Linked DNA regions of Homo sapiens: region 2 is linked to region 1. The links come from fine-mapping of genetic effects on gene expression. Tissue or cell type: T cells. Region 1 holds a variant in brackets; the other region holds the start of a gene. All regions are shown on one strand. Distances are between the middles of the regions.

What was found. PIP is the estimated chance that this variant, and not a neighbour inherited with it, causes the effect.
Region 2: INSIG2 starts here. The variant in region 1 is fine-mapped to the expression of INSIG2 in T cells (TOPMed, PIP 0.97).

The regions. Positions count from the first base shown.
Region 1 is chr2:118,164,320-118,172,522 of GRCh38, forward strand. No RefSeq gene overlaps it. Among named protein-coding and RNA genes, the nearest start is that of THORLNC, 18 kb to the right of the region's middle. RefSeq lists an enhancer at 5,120-5,169. The variant G/A (reference allele first, on the strand shown) is at 5,060.
Region 2 is chr2:118,084,466-118,092,641 of GRCh38, forward strand. It overlaps INSIG2 (insulin induced gene 2), which reads left to right and starts at 4,006. Exons shown (of 6, transcript NM_016133.4): 1 at 4,006-4,076. LOC107985940 (a long non-coding RNA gene) reads right to left here and starts at 3,966. Exons shown (of 3, transcript XR_001739662.3): 1 at 3,786-3,966. RefSeq lists enhancers at 3,711-3,760, 3,771-3,960.

The DNA of each region.
Region 1 (8,203 bases):
AAGAGGTGACTTGGATGCTGTTAAAGGCATTCTAGTTTCAAAAAGGAAACAAAGCATAAAAGTTTGGAAAATTTGCAGCCTGACAATGCAGTAGAAAAGAAAATCCCATTTTCTGGGGGAGAAATTCAAGCTGGCTGCAGAAATTTGCATAAGTAATGAGGAGGCAAATGTTAATCACCAAGACAATGGGGAAAATGTCCCCAGGGCATGTCAAACACATCTGTGGCAGTCCCTCCCATGACAGGCCCTGAGACCTAGGAGGAAAAAGTGGTTTTGTGGGCCGGGCCCAGAATCTCCATGCTGTGTGCAGCTTAGGGACTTGGTGCCCTGTGTCCCAGCCGCTGCAGCTGCGGCTGAAAGGGGTCAATGTAGAGCTTGGGCTGTGACTTCAGAGTGTGCAAACCTCAAGTCTTGGCAGCTTCCACATAGTGTTGACCCTGTGAGTGCACAGAAGTCAAGAATTGAGGTTTGGGAACCTCTGCCTAGATTTCAGATGTATGGAAACATCTGGATGTCCAGGCAGAAGTTTGCTGTAGGGGCAGGATACTCATGGAGAACCTCTGCTAGTATGGTGCAAAAGGGAAATGTGGGGTGGGAGCCCCCACACAGAGTCCCTACTGGACCACCACCTAGTGGAGCTGTGAGAAGAAGGCCACCATCCTCCAGATCCCAGAGTGGTAGATCCACTGACAGCTTGCACTGTGTGCCTGGAAATGCCACAGACACTCAATGCCGGCCCATGAAGGCAGCTGGGAGGGAGGTTTTACCAGCAAAGCCACAGGGACGGAGCTGCCCCAGACCATGGGAACCCACCTCTTGCATCAGCGTGACTTGAATGTGAGACATGGAGTCAAAGGAGATCATTTAGGAGCTTTAAGATTTGACTGCCCTGCTGGATTTTGGACTTGCATGGGGCCTGTAGCCACTTTGTTTTGGCCAATTTCTCCCATTTGGAATGGCTGTATTTACCCAATGACTGTACCCCCATTGTAACTAGGAAGTAAGTAACCTGCTTTTGATTTTAGAGGCTTATAGGCAGAAGGGACTTTCCTTGTCTCAGATGAGACTTTGGACTGTGGACTTTTGAGTTAATGCTGAAATGAGTTGAGTCTTTGGGGGACTGTTGGGAAGAAATGATTGGTATTGAAATGTGAAGAAATGAGATTTGGGAGGGAACAGGGGAAGAATGATATGATTTGGCTTCGTGTCCCCACCCAAATCTTGTCTTGTAGCTCCCATAATTCCCACATTTTGTGGTGGGACCCTGTAGGAGATGACTGAATCATGGGGGCAGCTCTTTCCGGTGCTCTTCCTGTGATAGTGAATGGGTCTCATGAGATCTGATGATTTTAAAAATGGGAGTTTCTCTGTACAGGCTCTCTCTGTCTTTGCCTGCTGCCATCCATGTAAGATGTGACTTGCTCCTCCTTGCTTTCCACTATGATTGTGAGGCCTCCCCAGCCATGTGGAACTGTAAGTCCAATAAACTTTTTTATTTGTTAAATTGCCCAATCTTGGGTATGTCTTTATCGGCAGCATGATGGACTAATACAGTAAATATTTGTAAACCAAACATTTGATAAAGGGGCTCCTATACCTCAATAGTAAAAAACCAAATAACCTGATTAAAAAATAGCTGAAGGACTTGAATAGATATTTCTCCAAAGAAGACTTACAAGCAACCAACCCATACATGAAAAAGTGCTTAAAGTAACTAATCATCAGAGAAATGCAAGTCAAAACTACAATGAGATATCACCTCACACCTCTCAGGATGGTTATTATCAAAAAACCAAAAGACCACAAGTGTTGGCAAGGATGTGAAAAAGTTGGAACACTTTCACCCTGTTGGTAGGAATGCAAAATAGTGCAGCCACTATGGAAAACTGCATGAAGGCTCTTAAAAAAATAGAACTGCCATTTAATTTAGCAATCCCAATTCTGAGTATTTATCAAAACAGTTAAAACAAGGATCTCAAAGTGATATTGATGCCCCAATGTTCACTATAGCACTTTTCACAATAGCTAAGATGTGGAAACAACTTAAATGTTCATGGATAGATGAATGAAGGATATGTGTTATATACATTGGATATGATACTATTCAGCTTTCAAAAAGAAGGATATTGTGCAATATGTAACAACATGGATTAACCTTGAGGACATTATGCTTAGTGAAATAAGCTAGTAACAGAAAGACAAATGTTACATGATTCTACTTATAGGAGATATTTAAAATAGTCAAATTCATAGGATCAGAGTAGAATGATGATTCCCAGACTCTGGAGTAGAATGATGATTCCCAGACTCTGGGGGAGGAGGAAATGGAGAGTTACTGATCATTGGGCATAAAGTTTCAGTTAAGCAAGATAAATAAGCTCTGGAGAGCTGCTGTATAACATTGCATCTATAGTTAACAATAAGGCACTGTATACTTGCCATTTGTTAAGGGGGTACATCTCATGTTCTATTCTTACCACAATAAAATGTAGTGAAAAACAAAAACAAAAAAGCCCTAAAAGACACCAAAGAATGGACAGATAAGCCACAGGATGAGAAAAGATATTTGCAATACATATATCCAACGAAGGACTTTCACACAATATACAAAGATCTTCTACAGATCAATACACAAAAACAGACAACAACTTTACAAAAGAGGGAATGGTTCAAGTGGCCAATAAATATATTAAAAGATCCTCATATTTATTAGTTATGAAGAAAATTATAACAACAGTGACATAGCAACACAGCCATTAGAATAGCTAAAATTATAAAGAAACTCAAAATACCAATTTTTGGAAGTTGTGGAGCAGATGAAACTTTTACACATTGTTGGTGGGAATGTTAATACAACGTTTTGGAAGACTGGCATTACCTAGTAAAAATGAGCAATTATGTTTCTTAATGATTCAGCAATTTTATCTCTAGGTATACATATTCAAGTGTGTGGCCACCCATTAGATGTTAAGAATGTTCAGCTGGGCATGATGGCTCACACCTGTAATCCCAGCACTTTGGGAGGCAGAGGAGGGAAAATCTCCTGAGCCCAGGAGGTTGTGGTGAGCCGTGATTGCACCATTGCATGCCAGCCTTGGTGACTGAGTGAGACTCCGTCTCAAAAAAACAGCAAAACAAAATAATGTTTGTAGCAGTAGTATTCATAATATTCCTAAATGGAATATTCCTCAAATGTTCATAAATAATAGAATGGATACATAAATTGTAATACACTCACCCAGTAGAATCCTATATAGCAATGGGAATGAGCAAGTTACTATTAGGCACAAAAACATGAATGGATCTCATAAATTATTGAGCTGAAGAAATCAGATGCCAAAGAATACATACTATGTGACTCCATTTATATGTTGTTCAAAAACATGCAAAATTTAAACTTTAGCAATAGAAGGAAGAACAGTGGTTACCTGGAGGTAAGGGGTGGGTGCGTAATGACTTGGAGAGAGCACGGAGGAGATTTCTGGGGCGCTAGCATACTCGATGTCCAGATATGGTGGTAACACAAGCATGTTCACTTTGGGGTTGGCTGACCTGAGCTTGAATCCTGGCTCTTGGGGAGTATGACCCCAACTTACGTAACCTCTCCAGGACTCAGTTTCTTTATTTGCAAAGTTCAGATAGTGAAACCCAGAAAGATTAATGACACGACAACAGGTAAAGCTCCTAGCCCAGGCCCTGGCATGAGCTGGGGCTCTGCAGTTATTCATTTCTTTCCCCTCACTCTGTGGTTATAAATGCACTGCCTGACCTAGTTAAACAAGATACCACCCCTTGTCCCCTCTTCCTCCTCTACCATCCACACACATCAGTGAGGCCTTCTTTTTATTTTTTATTTATTTTTATTTTTATTTTTTTTTAGATGAAGTCTCACTGTGTTGCTGTTGCCCAGGCTGGAGGGCAGGGGCCCGATTTCAGATCACTGGCTAACTGTAACCTCCACCTTCCTGGTTCAAGTGATTCTTGTGCCCCAGCCTCCCAAGAAGCTGGGATTACAGGCGCATGCCACCATGCCCAGCTAATTTTTGTATTTTTAGTAGAGATGGGGTTTTACCATGTTGGCTGGTCTTGAACCCCTGACCTCAGGTGATCCATCTGCCTGGGCCCCACAAAGTTCTGGGATTACAGTTGTGAGCCACTGCACCCAGGCAGTGAGGCATTCTTTATGAAATGATTTATCTTTTATGAAAGGGTAGAGGCAAGGGCAGCCATCTATGCAATAGGGACTCTGTCTATGGCTATTCAGCAGAGTAAAGATATGTAACTGGCCTAGATGCCAAATCTATAGGCTTGGCTTTCTCAGGCTGGGCTGCAGGCTGTATGTATAGTATGTATTCCTCAAATGTAAGGATCTTTCCTAGTTCCAACTCTCTTCATGGGGAGGGCATGGCCTCTCACATGCAGATAGATGCCTGTCACTTGATTCATTCAGTCTCTTAGAATAAAGGATGAGGCAATGGCGTGGAGGGTATCCCAAGCTTTGGCAGAATCCCAATTCTCAGGATTAACTTTTACCTCCCTGACCTCTCCCTGCAATTCCTTTTGGATCGGGTGTCCTTAGCTTCCTGTCCTAAACTGTTGGAGGGTGGTTGCCGGGCAGCTGTGAAACATCTGCCACCACATTCCACCTTCATTGGAGAGGTGGGCAAAGTGATATATGTGTGAATTTTCCAAATATTGTGTGTGTGTGTGTGTGCACTTGTATAAAATTTCATTTTTAAGGCCCTTCACAGAGTCTCAGGGATGAAAGCATGGAGTTGGTGCTATCATTATTACCGTGAGGCCCTCGTATTGCTTTGGCATATATAATGTTTCCCAGGCATATAACATTTTTCATTTAAAGAGGCAGCCTAGAGCACATTCCAACTTCAAAGATTTTCCTTTCTGGATGGTGGTTTTCTGCCCTAAGTCCTTGGGAAAATGTTGCCACATTTTTTTTTCTTTTTCTTTTTCTTTTTTAACCCAAGTGATTGACTTCCTTGAAAGGAGGAGATAGAGCTCTTGTAAAGATTTAATTTTTATGAGTTCTCTAATTCTCTCC[G/A]GGAAAAAACAGATTACTCCTCAAAGTTACTCTATGGGGTGTAGAGCCCCAGTGGCAAGGCAGAGGCCGGCCCATGGGTGTGACTTCCTGTTTGGTGCCGGTGGTGCACTGCAGGCTGTGGAGCTCAGGGTCAGAGGGAAGAATGCAGTCTCTGGCAGAGCCGGCTTCAATTCCGGTTCCATTTCTTCTCAGCTATGTGTCCTTGGGCTTTTAACCTCATCCTCAAAAACAGAAACACCATCTCTGCTCTGAAGGACTAAATAAGATAGTGTACATAGGTGGTTTTCAACTGGGATGATTTTGCCTCCTCCCACCATGGGGTACTGGGCAATGCCTGGAGACATTTTTGGTAGTCAGGATTGGAAGTGGGGTTTGCTACTGGCATCTAGTGGGTAGAGGCAAGGGATGCTGCCAACATGCTACAGTGCCCAGGACAGCCCTGCAACAAGTAATTAATCAGCCCAGAATGCCAACAGTGCGAGGCAGGGAAACCCTGGTGTACATGGCCACTTGGGGCAGAGCTGTCCTTTAGTGGATCTTCCCTTCCTTTCTTTTTTCCTTTGGTCTGTAATTTCTTCCCCAATCATTTTCCCCATGGAGGACCTTCTTGGAATTTTTGATGTTTTTTTTTTTCCAGTGAGTTCACCCCCTGCTTCTCTGCTGTGGTTATTTTAGATCTCTTCACTCCCATCAGAACTCACACCCACAACCCCTTCCCTCTCACTCTTAGCAGATGACAAACTTAGAGGGAAAATTGACATTTCCAGAGAATTCATTCATTTTTTCTGCTCCCAAGCCCACTGACCTACTTCATCTGTACCTTTGAGGCAGACATGGCTATTTCTAACCCAGAGTTGCCCCTTTCTTCTTTCTCACTGAAGCACTGATTCTGTTCGTGTGCTGGGTGGGAACTGGGCCCAGCCTTGGTCTGTGCGTGACTGTTAAGTCCCAATTTTACATAATGAGATGTGTCAAGAAGTCTTGTGAAGTGCTTCTGAAAAATGTTTTTCTTTCTTCTAAGAGAAAAGTGCATGAAGAGAATTATGCCCTTTACGGACACATGGTTCCTGGTTATGAATGGGGTATGTAAGGATGTGATGCTTAGAGCTGCTGCAGCCATCCTGCAACCATGAGGCAAAGGTGAAACAAATTACAGAGCTGTTGATTCTGAGCCCTGCCAACATTGAACAGTTTAATTAAGGGTAGCAAAAAGCTACTGTTTGACTTTCAAATGTCCAAGCTACTTTCCAAGTTACAATCCCAGAGGGTGTACTGTTACCTGAACCCGACAGAGTTTCTAACATATACAGCATCTTCTTTCATTCTTGTCCCAGTGAAATACCTCCTGGATCCAATCTCCATCCATCTCCTCAGAGATTTGCCTCTACTATTATTATTATTTCCTCCCTCTCTTCTACATCTTTAAAACTTTTCGTTTCTTGTATTGGCTTTTTCTTAGATGTATTAAGACATGATCAAATCTCTCCCATATTACACAACAAACAAAAAGCATCATTCCCAAAACTCAGCCTATAGGTATTTCTTTCCAGGTACTTTCCTATCTTTCATCTTAATGTTTACAGTAAGTGCCTCCTAAGCTTTGCCTGCACTTGCTGTCTCCTCCTTCCTACCTCCTACATTCTCCTCCTTCATCTTGACAATCTGGATTCCACTCCTACCACTCCACTGAAACTTGCCAAGGTCACTGAGACTTCCACTTTGGACTATCCAATAAGTACTTCTCAAGTCAGATATCATCATAGCAAAATCAATTTACCCCACCCTGTTGATATCCTCTTTTTCCTTGGCTTCTGTAACACTGCTCTCTCTGTGGGGTTCCCTCCCATCTCTCTAGCTAATTTCCAGGCTCTTGTAATGACACATCCTCTTCTGCCCTGTTAGAGGGGCTTTGCTGGCTGTCCTCTCTTCCTTGTTGCCCCTGCTCTCTGTAGAACGTCATCAGCAGCCCAGCAAACATTCATTATCTGGGGGCTGACATAATGCCAAACTTCTGTCTCCAATCCAAAATTTCCTGGTTTGGAGTCCACGTACTCATCTGTTCTTAGACAACTCCACTTGGATATCTCTCAGGAACCCCGATCTTGATATATCCAAAGCTAAACTCAAGATCTTTCTCCAAAACCTCATATTAGTCAATGGTCCCACCATTTACCTAGCTGCCTCAGCCAGACACCTGGGGGCCACCATTGACTGCCTCCTCACCCTACCTTTAACTCCGATCTCTCATGAGCACTTTGAGTAATATTCTGCTTTCTGTAGTGTCCAATGCTCTCTACCTTTCTTTATTTCCTGCAACTCTCTCCTTACTTGTCTCCCTGGCTATCTTGCCCTGCTCCACCCAAATCTGCTACTGAAATGCAAATCTGACCATGTGTGTCACTCTCCCACTTGAAACCTTATGGTGATTATTACCATGTGGGTCAGACTCATGATCATGGCTTATGAGGCTGTCTTCTGGTCACTTCTTTCCCTCACTCTCTGGGGGAGCGCAGGCCTGAGATGCAAGCCTTCCTACAAAGCTCAAATCCCATCTCCTCTTCCCCACCCCACCAACCTGGATGACTCTACTTGCTTCTGAAAGCTGAGATGTCACTGGCCTCTAACAAGTCTCTCTACACCCACCTGTCTGAATGAGGAGCCACTCCCATGTCCCAACTCTCCCTCGTGTCTCAGAGCACTGAGCTGAATTCACATCATTTCTTTAAGCATCTGTATCCCTGTTAAACTGTCAGCTCCATGACATGTCCCAACTCTCCCTCGTGTCTCAGAGCACTGAGCTGAATTCACATCATTTCTTTAAGCATCTGTATCCCTGTTAAACTGTCAGCTCCATGAGGGCAGACCTTGTGTCTGACTTGTTCCCCATTTGTATATGCTCCCTGAATATTTGTGGAGTGACAAGAATAACAGGATGAATGAACAATTATGGATATGTCAAGTGTGCTCCCTTGCACCGCCAGACGACCTCTCCCTCTGGCTCCTTCGGACTTCTCTCTTTCTGTGCCCCATTTCCAGCCCAGCACCTTCTACAGTCCACGTGCATTTTCTGCCCACCTTTGCATACATAATCTCATTACATTTCTTTTTATCCTTACACATGACACATATGGGGTGGCATTTTTA
Region 2 (8,176 bases), 80 kb before region 1:
ATGATGTTACTTTCACTCAGTCTCTCAGGCTCAAAACTTTGAAATCAACTTCCACCTTCTTTTCTTCACTCCTAACATTAGCAGTTATCAAGTCCTGATGATTCTTTGTATCCTCTGCCATTGCCTTTGTTAAGTTTGCACCACCTCTCAGCAGACAATCGCACTAGCTGCCCACGTAGATTCCCTGTCATCAGTTGCCTACATCAATCTAGCTTAAAATAGGAAAAATATATCTGATCTCATTGAGAGTTCTCAGTTGACTTGCTTCTGTAGAGGTGGGCTGACCTAACTTCTGCATTTCCAGGCTGTGAATTTATTGATGGCAAGAGATCTGTCTTATTCATTGTTGTGTCTCAGTGTTTAACAGAGTTCCCACATGTAACTGCTGCTTACTACGTGCTTGTGAATGTTGACAGGGCACTAGTGAGTGACTAAGAGCATAGGGTTTAGAATCCAATAGATCTAGGTTCAATTTCTGCCTTCTCTGCCACTTAGCTATGAAGTGACCTTGGACTGATTAACACTAAGTCAGTGATTCTCAACGCTCAGGTGGGGCTCGGGCACTAGAACTTTTAATAAATCTATGGGTGATCCTAATATGCAGCCAAAGTTAAGAATCACTGCTTTTAGCCTTAATTTCTCATCTGCTATTTGGTATCTATTTCAAATGGGTTTTGAGCATGTGAAATGAGATTTAACTTAGCACAGTGCCTGGCACACAGAAAGTGATTACCATCAATCATGATGTTAAAATACAACTTCAATTTGCAATTTTCTTTTCAATTGCTACCCCCAGCTCTGCCTTTCTTTCAATTCCCAGAATGCACCAAGTTTTTCAGCTTTTGTGCCCTCACACCTGTTCTTCATCCTGCTCTTAGCAGATCCCTCTCAATCTTCAGCTCACGCATGGTCTCCAGGTATTCCCCTTTATTCTCCATCACAATATGGAGATGTTCCATCTTCATGGCACTTGTCTCAGTTTGTAATTACATATGAATTCCACCATTTACTGTGTTTCCCCCACAGGACTCTAGCTTCACAAAGGAATGTGGCTTGTCTGTATTGATTTCCTCCTAAAGTCCAGTGCCAAGTGTCTGGTACCTGCCAGGTGCTCAGGTGATAGCTGGCTTAGTAAATAATCCATTCTGATCTCTCAAAAAAGCAAAATTCCTTGACTTTCTATGTCCCTCAAACATATTTCACATCAAAACACCGTAACAAAAACCAAAACCAAAAAAGTAGAATGGTCTGTAGTGTGTGGGGTTCTAGCTACTGAATAGGAAAATTGCAATAGTAAAAAAATTATCTTGGATGTTTTTAATTTGGGTAATGTTTCCAAGTCCAAGGTTCTTAGAGGCTTACTGAATGGCTTAGTCATCAACCTGTAGGCAATAATTAATGTGACTCCTACAATATCTCACTCCAACAAAGTCAATAAACTTTTGTGGGTGTTTGTATTAGCTAAGTAAAGGGCTTTTTGTTTTCTAACTTATCTTTGATCTTCTTGGTTGGGAGACCAAACAACATATAAAGCTAATGGAAAAAACCTTTCTTGAGGTCAAGAATTATCAAATTGTTGATACTTCTACCTATAAAAAAGACCTCAGAAATCATCTAAACCAATCTCTCATTTTACAGATGAAAAGAAGAAAGCCTAAAAAAATGAATTTATTGCAAGTGATTACACGCATACTGTCTTAGTGCTAAAATACAATCCAGGTTTCAAGGATCATTCACCAGCGTTCCATTGACCACATTACACCAACTTCAAAATAACTCAGTTGTTATGATTTCTTGATGTTCTTAACCAATTTATATTCTGGCATCAATTAATTTAGGATTTCCATGTTTCCATAACAAAAATTTAGTCCAAATTCATGAGCCTGATGTTTAGAACTCACATGTCTCACCATACCTCTTTGTACATGCCAGACTCTGCAATCTGTTTCATGTTTTTCCAACTCTGAGCTTCCACCAGAATGCACAGGCTAACCATATCTGCATATTTACCCTCAACGCCCACTGAAAGACCACATCTTCCATGAAAACTTTCCTCAAATCTGGTCAAAGAAGACAATGGCCTTTTGTATTTCTCCTAGGGATTTTATATTCCTCCTTGTACTGCAGTAGGAGTAACTGCATTAGATATAGGAACCTTGGAACTGGTGCTATATGGTTTTTGCTTTTTAGGTTCTGTCACTACTTGCAATTAATACATATTTAAACGAAAATAAATGCCCCTCTAGGTTACAATGTTCCATAAGGATTTTCTTGAAGGCAATTTCTAAGTGTCTGAAAAAAGCTCGGTTGGAGTAGACATGAACTGGACATACAGGACTTGTATTGCTTTAAGGAAATACATGATGTCAGAACATTTTCAAATTATTGTCTCTTTTCTGAATGCTTTCTCTATTCTTTTAAAAATCATCGTCCATTCTGTATAATTGGCCCAGATCTTTCTTACTGGTAGTGTAAAAACTTACAGGAGTGAAATTTGAAAGCTACAGAAAACATTAGAGAAAACACTAAGATATAGGAAATGTTAGAGAAGCATCATGCAAATACTTGCCTAGAAACATTTTGTTGGAATTCAGATTCTTTTTCAATTTTCAGAAGTAAATGTAGATAAAAAGGTCAAAAAACAAAAATCCATCTTATCGTTTATCAGTTCAAAGTAAATGAAAGGAGTTTACCATCTGACAGTCCTTTGGAAAACTATTATGCAATTACTCTCGGCCCAGATTTCATCTAGAACATTCAAGTCCATTGTAATCTTACCACATCCATACACGTTTTGGGTTAAGCCACCTCCAAATGGAATAGCTCAATAACTAATACACTCAAGAGAGATTATTTTTTCTCTCTTTTTAAAAAGAGTTGCTTAAAAAAAACAAATTCAGGGGGCAGCTCACGCCTGTAATCCCAGCACTTTGGGAGGATGAGGCGGGCGAATCACGAGGTCAGGAGTTTGAGACCAGCCTGGCCAATATGATGAAACTCCATCTCTACTAAAAATACAAAAAGTAGGCAGACATGGTGGCATGTACCTGTAGTCCCAGCTACTGGGGAGGCTGAGGCAGAAGAATCACTTGAACCCGGGAGGCAGAGGTTGCAGTGAGCCGAGATCATGCCAGTGCACTCCAGCCTGGGTGACAGAGAGAGACTCCGTCTCAAATAAATAAATAAATAAAAATAAATAAAAATTCAGAATAGGGAAGCAACTCCTCCTTATGACGAGTACCTTTCGGCACTTATATGGGCTTGCTTTTGCATTGATGGCACCACTTTCATTCAAAAAAAAAAGTTCGCTTGCACAATCTGCAAAGATCTGTTTGGCTTGGTTTCATGTTCTAAAAGTATGGTTTTAGATTAAATGAAAAATAATACTTCTGAAAAATAAGCGGTTATAAGGTTTTTAAGTTTTCTTTATGTTGGTGTAAACTTATAAAGCCCTTCCTATGAAAACTGTCCCCCAAATCACATTACTTGGTCGTCCTCGAGGAACGATTTTGAATGAAAAGCACATAAAGTGCTGTAGCATGGAGACGAGAGACAAATAACTATGCCCTTCTCCCAAAATAAGTTATGACTTACTAGGGGAGGAAAAGGAGCAAAGAGTATAAAGCCCGGTCCTCTGCGGGAAGTACCCGGAGGCCTGCCCCGGAACGCGCTCCTTTCGGCTACGAGATGAGGGGCACGCAGACGGACGCGCCCCTCGGTGAGTGTGCGTGTATCAGTGCATGATTCCTTTACTCCGCCCACAGGGTCTGGGCATCCGTCATTACCTACGGCTGCCTGGTCAGCAAACAACAGCAGATCCGACAACCGCCAGTCACCTCGACGGTCCACGCCCACCGCTAGCCTCCAGTTTCCCGCAGACCGGAAGCCCTTTTGCCCCGGCTCGCAGGTCCACGTCTTATTGACAGCAGGAACCGGAAGCTCTTCTGCCCCGATCGCCTGCGCGCGGCCTCGTTGGCCGCACAGGCGCAGTGGAGCTCGGGCGGAGTTGTGGGAGTGGAGGAGGAAGAGGCGGTAGGGGGTACGGGGGCTGGTCCCAGAAGATGGCGGAGGCGGGGGTGAGTTGGGGGTCTCCCGGCGAAGCGCGGGTGACGTGGTGCTGAGGAAAGCGGCCTGAGGAGGAGGGTGGCCCTTGGGAAGAAGAACTACTTGTGTTTTTGCAGCCTGGGAACCCTGGTGGCAGGTGCGGGGAGCCAGGACCACTGATGGGCCTGCAGGGCAAGGGGCTCCGCTTACCTGAGAGGGGTCCGCAAGGTCCAGAAGGGGACTGCGGGATCGGGGAGGGGGTATAGGAGGGGTCGAGGCTCCCCGGACAGTGGATGAGTGTCTGAGCGGGAAGAAGGCTGGAGGACGGCGAGAAGGGCGACCCAATGGTCTGATGAGGTGGAGGTCAGCGAGCTGTCAAGCATAGAGCTGCCAGGACTTGGGGGCTTGTAGCCTGGGAGAGAAGACTCAGACTTGGGCGGGGATTGGATCCAAAGAAGACAGGTTGTCGTAGTAAGTTTATAATCCACTAAGGAGATAGGGCATTGGGTTGAGGAGTAATACTCTGGCATTTTTGACTGGAATTGGTTACCTATGGAATAGGTGTTTCGGTAAAGCCAAATAATTCTTGCCAGGGCCTAGAAGTGGATTTGATGATAATTACTAGATTTTAGGGTTGCTTAGTGGGGATTGGCAATATGGAGAAGGAAAGCAGTGTGGATTATGGGAGTGGGCGCGGGCAATGGCGCTAACACTTAAGTGATAATGACCCATGTCCAGTTAACGTTGGAAAAAGTTGTTAAAGTATGATATTAGCTAGATGCTCTAGGAAAATATACCATGAAGAACTTGCTGTTTTGTAGGATTGATGAAGAAATGCTTTAAAAAGGAATGGTTAGGCTTGGCAGCTGGGCCACTGAAACTGTTTGGTATCAGTATTGCGGTGGAGCTGAGGACTGCAGGGGAATGCGTGCTCCCGTCCTGGTGCAGAAAAAATAAAAGCAGCCAGACAGTAGCTAGATGGTGTTTTGTAACTTTTGGGTTTGGCCCTGATAGTGAACCACTGAATGAAGATGGATGAAGGGAATGCTACTAATGGGGGCCCCAAAGAAAACAAAAATCAGACGTGTGCTCTTCCTGTTTTCTGTCTTTCATTCTTTCCCTGTACTTTGTGCTCAGTACTGTGTTTTGTCATTGTGTTATGTCGTAGTTCTCAGTTCACATCTGCTGTACAGTGACCAAGCTGTGAATCATGTCCACTCGGGAAAGAGGTTGATTCTGTTTAACTGACAACTGTTGCTTTTGCAGATGGTCACACGGAAAAGGAAAGAATAAAATGCAGTTCAGTAGTTTAAAGAGTTTTCTTTGTTCTCAGAAACTTATCTCGAAACGATGGAGTAACTTTTTTAGGCACTGAGATGTGACATTTAAAACCTGTAAGGGGCTGTAAATGCAGCTAACTTACTGGTTTCTATGTTTGGGTTTTAATGTTGAGAGGAAAGAGTTGCAGTGTTTATAAGGCAAATATTGCTTTTCTTCCTAGAAATTTTTAACGTCTCTAGCCCATGATACATGTAGATGTGTTTTTATTTAGGGAGCATTAAACTGTTGCATTGATTTAAGTCTGTTTTTTTCTAATGTTAGTGCTTATTCTATTTCAAGAATGCTATTCTAATTAAGAGAGCATATGATGAAAAATATGTGAGGTAGTAATTTAACTTTATTATTTAGTAGCTTACGTGACCTAAGCACCTGAAGAAACAGGGTTATCTGAGGGAGTAAAAATACTTCTTTTACGGCTAATCATTGGAAGAGGAATGGTCTTGTCATTTGGTTTTAGGGGGTGTTGCAGTTGTTACAATGCAACAGGTTCTTAAGGTTACTAGAAGATTTTGTATGTGTGTTTGTTTTCAAATGCTTGTTGCCTCTAAGTTGTTTCAGTGGCCAACATGAACCTTGATTTTTATTCACGAAGCTCATAATCACTTATAACTCTTTTTTAACCTGAAAGTAATAATATCAATCCATTAATAGGCAGCCATACACCTGGAATAATGTTTTTCCAGTATTGATGATTCATCATTGATCTATGCAAATTATTTCAACTTTTTTTCTTTTTGTTTAGTATTGTACTTTCCAGAAATTTTAGGCCAGGGCTCAGCGTAGAATTTTTCAAGTCTGGTGGAAAGTTTTTCTTTGTGAATTGTTGAAAACATTATTTTGGTATTAATAGTAGTTTACCAACATGATTTTAAAAACGGTTTCTTGTGTGGCACTTAAATTGTTTTGTACCATGTTTGTGAATGGAAGCAGTGTGGTGAAGCAGGAAGAACTCCGGACATGGGGTCAGAGTGGGTGAGCCTAGTCCTGGTGCTACCTGGTAACAGTTCTGTGATCTTGGAAAGTTACTTAACCTATTTTATTTTGTAAAATGGAAACTAACAACACCTGCCTATTTACCAAGATTGTTTTCGAGAATCTATTGACATATTGTCCTTTAAACAGTATCTTTATACCAGAGACTTTTTCCCTGGTCAGCAAATTATTTGTCAAGTAATCTAAATTTTTCAAATATAGATTTTTAAAAAAAATTTTGGAGCATCAAGTTTATCATTAATGTAAGACTAATATTTAAAGATATAGATCCACTTTGTTTTAAGAAAATGGTATCAGTACAAAATCAGAAAAACAAACTTCAAAGTAAACTAAGGGAGCTTACTTTCCCTTGAAAATAACCCACTCCTCTGACTCCTCTAGTGTGCAACTGATATTATAAACATGCTTTTAAAGGAATTTCATTGTTGCATGGTAGGGGGTGAAATGGTTTTGTGGACGCCTCTATCCCTTTGATGAGTCTGGTCATTTTCTGGCATTCACTATACACGTTTGTGGTAATAAGAACTGATGGTACTGTCTTAATCTTGTTAATCCAGTTGACTACTTTGCATGTCATTGGCCTTGCTAATAGAGTGAGAGAATTGTTAGATTACTGATTCTTTACTTTGTTTGGATCATGGACTTTTTTGAGTACTTTATATAAATTATGGAACTTTCATCCCAGAAAAAAATGCATATATATACAACTTTTTTGTTTTGTTTCGCATGGGGGTCTCATACCCCTTGGAATAGATGATTTCCCAGTTCCCTGCTATTTCTTAAAGCTTTTATTTTTTGTCACCAGTAATTATATACTATTGTATTATGATGTAGTTACAAAATTAGCTTTTTGAATCTCATTCAAATAAATGTCAAGCAAATGTGTTATTTTTAAGGAAAACTTTTGGGGCGAAGTAGAAAACTAAACAAGCACTGCCAGGAAAGGTTAAATAAGCAGCTGTGGTAGAAAACATAAATAAACAGAAAGTCTCTAGCTGTCTTGAAATAGAATGAAGTCTGTAGCAATCAGTGGCTCTCATTGTGGGGACAGTTTTGGTTATCACAAATAGGGGAGGGGGCATTTAGTGGGTGGGAGCCAGGGATGCTAAATGTTTTGCAATGCTTAGAACAGTCTCACACAGCAAATAATTGTCCTGCCTAAAATATCAGTGCCCTTTGACAAATGCTGGTCAGTGTGAGATGGGGGCTAGCATGACTGAAATAGCTTTTTTAAACTGAAGTTATTTTCCTTTTTAAAAATACTATTAAACATAAAATACCCCTTTCCATTAATTCCCTTTTGGAAAAATCACAAACAGAAACAAATGATACGCTGTCTCAATGTGGGTTACTCAAAGTATGCCCATCTTCTAGCAGCTGTTAGCAGCACGTGAGGGCAACGTGCTGTGTCTACTGGGATCTGGGGAAGTAAAGAGTCAACTAATGTTCTTATACAGAGTGTTAGTTTGCTATTTTTTCTTTTTACTTTAAAACATTTTCACACCTTGATCTAGTACTATTAAAGAAAATTTCAAGGTGATTTTACATTTATTCTCATCATCTTTGTGCAATTGTATAGTCACCTGCTTGTTTTGGCTTACTATCTGAGAGTGTATTATAGTTGAGATGGTATTTCAACATCTAACCATCTTTTCAGTAACCAAACACTTTTATATAGAACCATCTGCCGAAAAAGAAGTCTGAGCAGTTGAGATGGAATGGAATTCAAGGTATAGAGGCAAGAGGATGGGTTTTGGAATCAGACCTGAAGTGGAATTTCAGTTTTGATACTGCATGT